Regions from separate parts of the Homo sapiens genome. Here region 2 is linked to region 1. Evidence: fine-mapped expression QTL. Tissue or cell type: putamen. Region 1 holds a variant in brackets; the other region holds the start of a gene. All regions are shown on one strand. Distances are between the middles of the regions.

Region 1 (5,191 bases):
CTGTCCTGGTCCTCTAATCCGGGCTCGGAGCAGCACCGGGAGCAGACACAGAAAAACCTGGAAGAGCCTCTCTTCTTCAGCACCAATTATATACTGAGGTTATTCATATGCGGTTCCTGGACTACATGTTCCAGGACTGGACAACCAATCAGAGTATGAAAATAAAGTCCAATCAGAGAAGGCCTAGAGGTTTTCTCTCACCCAATCAGAACATGCAGTCCAGAAACCATGCGCATAACCCAATGTGCATGCTGAGGAGGCCTCACGCCAGTTTAGGCTCTCCAGTATCTCCCACTGAGCTACTCTGTCCCCGACTTAGAGGACCAGGAGAAGGGGGAGCTGGAGGCTGGAGCCTGCCACACCGTGGCTCGTCTCACTCTGGATGGTGGTGGCAACAGAGATGGCAGTGTGGCTGGAGTTTTAGGAGGGCGGCCTGAGCCGTAGGAGGGGGCTGGAGCAGTAACATGGCGGCCTGAGCGGTAGGCGGGAGCTGGAGCAGTAAGAGGGCGGCCTGAGCGGTAGGAGGGGGGCTGGAGCAGTAAGAGGGCGGCCGGGGCGGTAGGCGGGGGCTGGAGCAGTAAGAGGGCGGCCTGAGCGGTAGGCGGGGGCTGGAGCACTAAGAGGGCGGCCGGGGCGGTAGGAGGGGGCTGGAGCAGTAAGAGGGCGGCCTGAGCGGTAGGCGGGGGCTGGAGCAGTAAGAGGGCGGCCTGAGCGGTAGGAGGGGGGCTGGAGCAGTAAGAGGGCGGCCTGAGCCGTAGGAGGGTGGGTGGCAGCTGGAGATGCTCTTGACCGGCTAGAGGTCTAGGAGAAGGTGGGGACCGTGTCCAACACTCGTGGCTGGAGCCTTGGCCACCGCGGTTCTCCTGGCTGTGGTTGGTGGTGGCGACGGAGACTGCATCTCTGTTAGACTGGTAGAAAGGTGGCAGGGTAGGTGCGCTCTCTGCGGCTGCACTGCCCGCTTGCGGGGTGGTAGGGGAGCGGGTGTGGCGTGCTTTTGGGGCTGCACTGCCTGCCGCGGGGGGCTGGTGGGTGGCGCTATCAGGCGTTGAATTGCTGGCAGTGGGGCAGGTTCGCTGCACTATCAGGCTCTACACTGCCTAAGGGGGCGGGGGGTTGGAGGCAGGTTGTGGGTTGTGTGCACTGTCGTGCACTGCCAGTGGCGGGTGGCAGGGGGTTAGGAGCATTATTAGCTGCTGCACTGGCTGATGCAGGGGGCGGGTTGGGTGAGCTATCGTGGGCTACAATGTCAGCAACAATGCCAACTGGCAGGCAGTCGGGGGTGCTTTAGGGGAGCTGTCAAATGCTGCATTGTCCGTGGGGGAAAGGGGAAGGTGGGGTGGGGGGTTGGTTGGGTGCACTGCCCTGGGCGTTCACTGCCCGAGACGGGAGCAGATTGGGGGCGCTATCTGGGGCTGTGCTGCTTGTGGTTCGGGTGGGGGGCGGGTTTGGTGGGGTGTTATTTGGTGCTGCAACACCCGTGGCGGGGATGGGTTGTGGACACTATCGAGTGTTACACTGCCAGGAGCAGAGGGGTGGTTTGGGGGCGCTATCAGGGTTACACTGCCTGCAGCAGTCTCTGGGTGTGTTGTGGGCACAATCCGGGGGCTACGCTTGTCGGTGGGGGGGCAGGTTGGGGCGCTATGGGGGGAGGCTGCACTGCTGCTGCCAGCGGCAGGTTGTGGAGGTGGCCACGACAGTGGTGGCCTCTGAGGAAGGGGCCCTTCTCCTCTTCCCGGACTCAAGGCTCTAGAGGGTGAACAACTTCTGCTCGTGTTGGAGCGTGGAGGGTGTACAGAGTTTTCACGGCAATCCTCTGACCACCCCAGGGCCCTCACACCCACCATGGTTCCCCGGCCCTTGCCCTCTTGCTGCGTGGTGTGGAGACCATCTGGGGGCCCCAGGCGTGGAGTAGTGGGCACCACGGGGGCTCAGGGTCCTGTGGGTGGAGGAGTGAGGAATGGGAACTGGTACTTGGGTGGAGAGGACTGGCTGGGTCTGAGTTTCTGCTATTCTTGCTCCCCAGTGAGCCCTGGGCACTGTGGTGTCTCCAGTCCCCACCCCAGGTCAGGAGGCCAGCTTGGTCTAGGAGGAGAGGCTGGACTTTGGAGGGTAGGTGTGAGTGCCTT[T/C]GCTGAAACTGGTCCCTGCCACCCAGTGGCCAGCATGACAAGGTGAGGCTCCAACACTGCCACTTTCTGCATCCTGTTGTAGGTTTTTCTGGCATTGTCTGCCCAGCTGCTCCAAGCCAGGCTGATGAAGGAGGAGTCCCCTGTGGTGAGCTGGAGGTTGTAGCCTGAAGATGGCACAGCTCTGTGATTCATCTCCTGCGGTTGTGGCGGCCACGGTGATGGAGACTGCAGCTCAACAGGAGTGGTAGGAGGGTACCCGTGGAGGCCAAGTAGTAGGAGCCTTGGAGGGTGGGTAGGTGCATGGAGGGTGACAGCAGCGCTGGTTCCGTTGGCGTCGGCGCTAATGGTGGCAGCAGCAGCAAGTCTAGGGGCCAGGAAGGGGGAGTAGGAGAGCTCTGGGGCCCGGCCCGGCCTGGGGTGGGTAAGAAGCTGCCGGTTCTGTACCGCAGGCCTCAGTGACAGTGGTGGACCAGGGCAAGGAGGAGTCCTCCCCCTTCTCCTGCGGTCTCTGGAGGGTGCCCTCCTTCTGCTGGCGTCTGAGCCAGGTGTGAGTGGCAGCATTGTTTCATTCTTAACAGAATTTAGGGGCTTACTATTTGTGTATCTTTTTGTTTTTGGTTGTGGTAACCCTTAAGGGACAAAAGGCTTCTTTGGCTGGGTTTTGGTGTGGTGGGATCCCTCCATGTAAGACAAAGGGTGCTTCCCTGGCAAGCTGTGTGTTAGAGGGAGTTCACGAAGGGGAAGAAAGGGAACCTCCCAGGAGGGTGGCTGCTGTGGCAGGTCCCCTGCCTCTGGGCACCCTTTGGGCCACCTAGTTTCCCCTGTGGAAGAGGGGAGGCTTAGACCGGTACCACCTGTATCATCAAAGAGGCATCCTGGCTGGGCCAGTCGATTTGACCTTCCCACTTCTTCAGCCCACCTGCCTGTGGTGTCACCTGGGGGAAGTGGATCCTCACACCACAGGGGCAGAGGCTTCTCTGGCAGGCTGATTGCTGTAGTGGATTCTGTTCTGCCTGCTGCTCAGGAGGGTTTCTGTGGCCAGGAACTGATGCTGGGACTCTCCTGTTGGTGTTTTGCTGCCTCTGTGTTGTCTCCGGCTTCTCAGGGACTCTCAGATGTGTGAAGGCAAAAAGGTTTCCTGGCTAGTTTGCGTGGTGTGGTTGGGATCACTTTTGCTACATGCCCCTCAGGCACCCTAGTGGGGGAAAAGGGAATTTTAGATTTAATGGAGAATGTGTCTATGTTGGCTGCTTATTGTTAGCAAACTTCTGAACAATTCTATTCTAAATGGTCGCCTCTTGTTGAGTAGACTCCAGCTCCATTGGAGAAGAGATGATCTTACCTGGGCTGTGTTTTCTTGCTAGCTTGAGGGTTGAAAACACTAGGTTTTTGTCTCCTTTTCCAGTTGAGTTAGGGAAGTGACATGCATTGCCACAAAACAATTCCTTCAGTTCTGGAGTCCTTAGACAGACTGTCATCTTACTAGCACCTTCCAGCATTCTCCTTTCAGTGAGATAAGGGAAGGTTCCTAATCTAAAAGGAAACATGGAATGGTGTTCTTATATTGTATGACAAGAAATATGAAATATTTCTGAAAAATTTAGTCATTCTTCTTTTAAATTTAGAAACCTGTTTTTTATATTTATAATATTTCAAGCCATTAAAAATTAGGATGTCATAATTGAAATAATCTTTTAACATTTTACATTAATTAGCATTTAGCAGATGACCATAACAAATTATTTTTAATTATGTTACATTAATTGCCAATACAGATTTCTTTCTGGTTATTACAAATCTGTTTGCAAAATTTTATTTTGTCATTTATTAAATTTTTGTATAATTAGTTGCTACATTGCAGGTATAGGAACTTCCAATATTAAGCATGATTACAAATACCTCAGTTTTCGTGTCTTTTTATTAATAGTCTAAAACTTATAAAATGCTTTGTGCATTTTATAAGTTATTGGTATAAGTTATAATGTTATTTTATAAGTTATTGGTATAAGTTATAATGTTATTGGTAACATTCTTTAGTATGAATTATCATTTGAAAAATGTTAAGAACATAGCTTTCCCATCTTATTTATTTTCTTGAGGTGGAGTCTCACTCTGTCGCCCAGGCTGGAGTGCAGTGGCGCGACCTTGGCTTACTGCAACCTCTGCCTCCTGGGTTCAAACTATTTCTCCTGCCTCAGCCTCCTGAGTAGCTGGGATTACAGGCACGGTCCACCACGACCGGCTAATTTTTGTGTCTTTAGTAGAGATGAGGTTTCACCATATTGGTCATGCTGGTCTCGAACTACTTACCTCAGGTGATCCACCTGCCTCGGCCTCCCAAAGTGTTGGGGTTACAGGTGTGAGCCACCACGCCAAGCCTATTTATTTTAGATACAGTGTCTTCCTCTGTTGACCAGGTTGAAGTGCAGGGGTGTAGTCATAGCTCACTGCAGGCTCAGACAGTCCTTCTGCCATGGCTTTCCAAAGTGCTGGGATTACAGGCATAGGCCACTGCACCTGGCCTAAATTGTGATAATTTTACAGTTTGCCTCAAACGAGGGTTGATGTCTGGGCAAGGTCTGCTGGGGGCCTCCCATATGCAGGCAGTCTCTCTGCTGTGCCCTCCACCAGCACTGAGGGTCACCTGCCCACAGGCACCCCTCTCCTTTCCCCTCTGGGGAAGGCCAGAAGTGACTTTTGAGGTTACCTGAGGGTCTTTGTCTGGAAAAGGGTGTGAAGCTGAAGCCGATGGCCTCAGTGTCCAAAGGGGAACACTTCCCACAGGCGTTGGGAAGCCACAGGCCTGACAGTGGGGTCCTGGTCTTGGCGGTCTCAGTCACCTGGCCACCCATTCCTTCCTCACTTAGGCATCCACCTGGCGGGCTGCCCACACCCTCTTCTGTCTGTGCTCAGCCAATCAGGCAAGCCAGGGTTACAGCCCTCCCTGTCCTGGGCCCTGGCTCCATGAAGCACCATGTGCCTTGGAAGACCTCCCCGATTGATCCTGTCTCCCCAGTATCTTCTGCTAAGGCAGAGGTTTCCCTGGGCCCCTGCTCTGGTCCGCT
Region 2 (5,128 bases), 23 kb before region 1:
TCTGCCTGGGCAACAGAGCAAGATACCGTCTCAAAAAAAAAAGTTAGAAGAGAAATGGAAGGTTCTCTCTTTTCCTCAGCTTCAGTATACTAAAACCCAGAAGCATAGGACATAAGTTTTTTCCATGGGATACTTTAGTTATCACCTTGGGTGAAAACATGGTACTAGGATTTGTCCTTCAAGTCAGGTTAATGTAACAGAGGTAGCAGTGACTTATGGTTAGATTTGTGCCTTAACTGTGCACTTCCCAATATTTGCTATAAAATGGGGGCAGGGGGGTGATAATAATATCTAATACATGAAGCCTGTAGGACAGTGCTCTGTGTTTGTGTTTTGACTGCAACTCAAAGAAAGCAATATATTTTTAGATGAAGTATATACATGTATATATATATAACTTAAAAGTTTCATAAAGCAGTACTTACCCTTACTATGTTCCATGTGTTCTAATATTTTCTCTTACTTCATTTTGAGATAATGCTAGGCATGACCCATTTATTTTAAGACACACTAATTGGTCAAAAAACAATTTGAAAACCACTGCTATAGGAGAACACGAGGAAATATATTTTATAAACTGTAAAGCACTACTAAGACGTGAGCAGCGGCTGCTGCATATCCAGGTCAACCTTTATGGGCCTGAAGACAACCTCTCCTTCGTTTGGGCACTGCTAGGAGTCAAATCTACCTAGACTTTTGGTAAGGAAGATGGTACTCATGCTCATTGTCATTGAGACAATTATCTAATGCTTAGAAGTCAAGACTAGAAAGCAAGGCATTAACCATATCAGCACCCAAACAAGGGAAGACAAGTTACAAGAAAGCCAAATAAAACAGCAAACATTTGTTTAGTGCTTTATGGTTAACATATATGATCTCTTTTAATCCTTACAATCCTAGGGAAAAAGTGAAGCTCAAGGAGGTTGACACCTGCCCAAGACTAGACAGTAAGTGGCAGAGCCAGGTCATCTGATCCTAAATCCCGCACTCCTTCCACTATGATAAAATACCAGGAAAGAAAAGTGATCAGGATATGAGGCACATTCTGATCCATCAAAGATGCTTATATGCTTTGCCTTTCTCTAGAAGGAAAACGGACCCCACTGAAGGTAGAGATGCAATCCCAGACTTTCAGAGGGGGGGTGTGGCCAATTGCTATCAGTAGTTTAGGACTCACATCTGGCATTTCTGTCTACCAATACATCTATTTTGACACTGCTTGTGCTGAGGTCCCAAATGTCTATTATCTCCAAGTACTGTGGCTTTCTATTCCTATCTGTACCTGTCCCAGGGAATTGGTCAAGGACTCACATTAGGGAGAAATGAAGTACTGGGTATCTGTTACTCACGTCCCTTACACTTAGGTAGACTGCCAGTATTAGCAGTAGTGGTCCGCTTCCAGTGACCGTCATATTATCTGTTCAGCTTCCTCTGGGGAAGCCAATCTGCCCCAATCTTCATGGTTTTGTGTCTCCTTTTTTACCCATATGACCATCTCTCTCCACCGTGTCTCCCTCATCAAATAAAGAGAAGTTTAGCAACTAAGTACCTGAGGAGGTGGGAAAGGAATGCTACTCATTCCTCAGCTCTCCTAGTTACCTTTCCACTCCCTTCATCCCCCCACATTCCCTCATTTCTCTCACCTGGTACTCCTGCACCACCTCCTCCAAAGGCAGCACGCTGTGCTGTTTGTGGCTCCTGGATTCTCGGCACACCACACAGATGGCCTCTTTGTCCACCTCACAGAAGAGTTTCAGGGCTTCCTGGTGTTTAAAGCACATGCCCTGATCATTACTCCGGTTTCCCCGATAAGGAGTGGGGCACATCTGGCGAATTATCTGGACCATGTTGGCCAGCTGCAAGTTGGGACGAAAGCTGCGACGTGTAAAGCTCTTTCGGCACTGGGGGCAGGTGAACTGCCCTGGAAGGGGCAAGGAAGGAGGCGGGTGGATGTCAGGATACAGCTCTTCATCTTCGTCCTCATCGTATGCTTCCAGTATTTCTTCTTCTCGGTAGACATCAATTCTCAGGTCAGGTCTCAAGCCTCCTAGGTAATAGTCCTGATCTTCCTCTTCTTCTTCTTCCTCCTCGTCCCACATATAGTCTACGTTGTCCCAATTAGTTATACCACTGTCACCGAGCCAGAGTTCATCGTCATCTTGGTCTTGGAACAACTCTTCGTCAGCATTCCCCCGATACAACACCTCTCGAATGGAGCCGTCCCATCCATCCATGGCCCCCACCGCTTCCTCGTCCTCCTCCTCCTCCCATTCATCTTCCTCCTCGTTCTGGTCCTCCTCGTCCTCCTTACTCCACAGCTGGGTCACACACCCTCGGCAGAAGTTGTGCCCACAGCTGATGGACACGGGGTCCTTGAAGTAATCCAAGCAGATGGCACACACCGCTTCCTCCTGAAGGGTCTGCATGGGGCTGGGAGTAGTGGCATAACCAGCCATCTTAATGCCCGCCGGCAGGTGTAGATACGTCAGCTTGGAGCTGAGGAGCGGGGACGCGCCTGCAGGCCTGCCTCCAAACTACTCTGGTGACCCGAGGCTGTCCTCAACCTTGCTCTTCTTCCTCGGGGCCGCAGGGGAGCTTTGACCCCCTCTCTCAGGGTGCGAACGCCCAGATCCAGACTCACAGCCTCTCTCTGGGATCGGTGGGGACAGAGCAGGCTGCAGCCCCCAGCTGCTCGGTCCTGTCACGTCTCTCGCTACCCTCAGGGTGTGCCCTACACTGCGGCGTCCGCCTCAGATGCAGCCGCTGGCTACCCTGCCCGAGGCGACGCAAAATGACGTCTCGCTCCTGCACACGCTCTGGAGAGACGCTCTAGGCCGGCGGAGGACCACGTCTCTATGGTGTGCCGGGGGCCGCGCGGGCCGGGAGTTGGGTGGGCTGGGGGACAGGCGCGCCCGCGCCGCCCGCTCCAGCTGGGCTAGTGCTGCACATTCCGGCCAGCCCCTCCTCAAGACCCCATTCCCAAGCCCCTTCTCAGCTCCCTCGGGCCGGCAGAGCGGCTCTGATCAGGTCAGCGGCGGACGCCGGGAAGAGGCCCGGCTTGGGAGAGGTGGTTTGGTGGGTTGGCTGGTTCTAGATGGTGGGGGGGTCAACACTTGAGGGGGACTGGGTCTCCGAGCCGTTGTCCAGCCTGAGCCGGAGCCCCAGGAAGGTTAGAGGGAAGGGGGATAAATCTCTCCGGAAGCCCCGCCCGGGCCGGGGCCGAGTTGGTCCGCGGCGGTGGGGAAGCCTGGGACACCACCCTGGTGCTGTCGCCCGTCCCGCCGTCCGCGCTTGGGGTGCCTTTGTGGGGATCCGGGCGCCGCACAGCTGGGAGGGCCTGCCGCCCGGGAGGCTCGGATCCGGGGCGCCCAGTGCCCCCCGCTGCCTTCCGTGAGCCGTCGGGCCCCAGCTCCACGTAGGCCTCAGACCCAGCCCTGTTTCTGCTTGCGGGGCCGCGGCTGCGCAGTATTGCGGCGTCTGCCAGCAAAGCTGCGCCCCGGTCGTGGGTCCCCTGAGGGGGCCGGGGCTCAAGTTCCCTTCGGTGCTGCCGCCTGCGTCGGGCCAGGGTTCCGAGTTCCAGCCCTGAGCTCTGTGAGCTCGGCCGGGAGGGGGCTGGATTTGGGACCACACTTCCTCACCGCCGTGGTTTAGACTTAGTTTGAGAGCGGCTGGCCCCTCCTTCCTGTCCCGGTGTCCTCCGCTGTCTGTTATGCCCTTCACTCCTCCCTGGGGAGGGAGGGCTGGGGGCGCTGTCTGGGTCTGTTTTCCACCCCAGCGGGGCCCTAGGGCAGTGTCATTTAGACTCCACTCTGTCACCTTTCCTGGAGAGGGGACCTGATCCAGGGCTGAGAGGTTTTTTTTTTTTTTTTTTTTTTTGAGATGGAGTCTGGCTGTTGCCCAGGATGCAGTGCAGTGGCGCGATCTCGGCTCACTGCAAGCTCCGCCTCCCAGGTTCACGCCACTCTCCTGCCTCAGCCTCCCGAGTAGCTGGGACTACAGGCGCCCGCCACCACGCCCGGCTAATTTTTTTTTTTTTGTATTTTTAGTAGAAACGGGGTTTCACCCTGTTAGCCAGGATGGTCTCGATTTCCTGACCTCGTGATCCGCCCACCTCGGCCTCCCAAAGTGCGGGCTGAGAGATCTTACAGTGGGAGGGGGAATCAGGCCCTGGGGAAAGGCTTCTCAGGGGTTGTCTCCTTCTGTCTTCTGTCTCTGCAGGTAGGGATAGAACCAGGTCAGGCCTGGATTTGTAGTCCCAGAGAACAGAGGATGGAGATGGGGGCTGGACGCAGCTCAGAGGGGCTGGTGCTCATGGGCTCTGTGTATGCCTTCTCCTGTGGCCTGGTTCTGTGTACAGATGTTCTACCCCAGTGCTGAGGGCCAAGACACCCTCTTGGCCTTGGTGCTGGGGGCATCCTGGGGCAAGGAGTGTAGGCAGAACTCCTCAACATTGGAGATTTGGGGAAATTGTGTCCCCTCCCTTTTAGACTCCTGTAGCCCCCTGCAGTGGCACGATCTGGGCCCACAGCAATCTCCACCTCCTGGGCTCAAGCAGTCCTCCCACTTCAGCTTCTGGAATAGCTGGGAACACAGGCATGCACCACCACTCCAGGCTAATTTCTTTATTTTTTTATAGAGACAGGGTTTCGTCATGTTGCCCAGGCTAAAGTGCCGTGGCTATTTATAGTCACGATTATTGCACCCTACCACCTCAAACTCCTGGACTCAAGTGATCCTCCCGCCTCAGCCTGTGGAGTAGCTGGGACTACAGGCATGCACCACTATGCCTGATTTACCCATTCTCTTTTAGATTTTTTTTTTTTTTGAGAGAGGGTCTTGCTCTGTTGCCCAGGCCAAATGCAGTGGTATGATCATGGCTCATTGCACCCTTGACCCCTGGGCTCAAGTGATCATCCTGCCTCAGCCTCCCAAGTAGCTGGGACTACAGGTGTGCATTACCACATCTGGCTAATTTTTATTATTTTTTTTTTTGTAGAGATGAGGTCCTGCTATGTTGCCCAGGCTAGTCTTGAACTCCTGGTTTAAGCAGTCCTGCCTCAGCCTTACAAAGTGCGGGAATTACAGATGTGAGCCACTACGCTCAGCCCCATACAAGGTTTTTTTTCTT

Direction of the effects. Alleles are on the strand shown, and positions count from the first base shown. SD is a standard deviation of normalised expression in the study named.
In carriers of allele C in region 1, the expression in putamen of the gene that starts at base 2,855 in region 2 tends to be lower than with T alone (large effect, 1.1 SD a copy in GTEx).

Evidence for each region. PIP is the estimated chance that this variant, and not a neighbour inherited with it, causes the effect.
Region 2: it holds the start of TRIM52-AS1, and the variant in region 1 is fine-mapped to the expression of TRIM52-AS1 in putamen (GTEx, PIP above 0.99). The same link has a PIP of 0.9 or more in anterior cingulate cortex, cerebellar hemisphere, hippocampus, nucleus accumbens and prefrontal cortex.

The regions. Positions count from the first base shown.
Region 1 is chr5:181,281,134-181,286,324 of GRCh38, forward strand. No RefSeq gene overlaps it. Among named protein-coding and RNA genes, the nearest start is that of TRIM52-AS1, 23 kb to the left of the region's middle. RefSeq lists enhancers at 1-179, 2,903-3,423. The variant T/C (reference allele first, on the strand shown) is at 2,127.
Region 2 is chr5:181,258,358-181,263,485 of GRCh38, forward strand. TRIM52-AS1 (TRIM52 antisense RNA 1) reads left to right here and starts at 2,855. Exons shown (of 3, transcript NR_102762.1): 1 at 2,855-3,027. TRIM52 (tripartite motif containing 52) reads right to left here and starts at 2,786. Exons shown (of 2, transcript NM_001346048.2): 1 at 1,644-2,786. The coding sequence starts at 2,456. RefSeq lists enhancers at 2,487-2,536, 2,717-2,766 and silencers at 2,907-3,056, 3,167-3,416.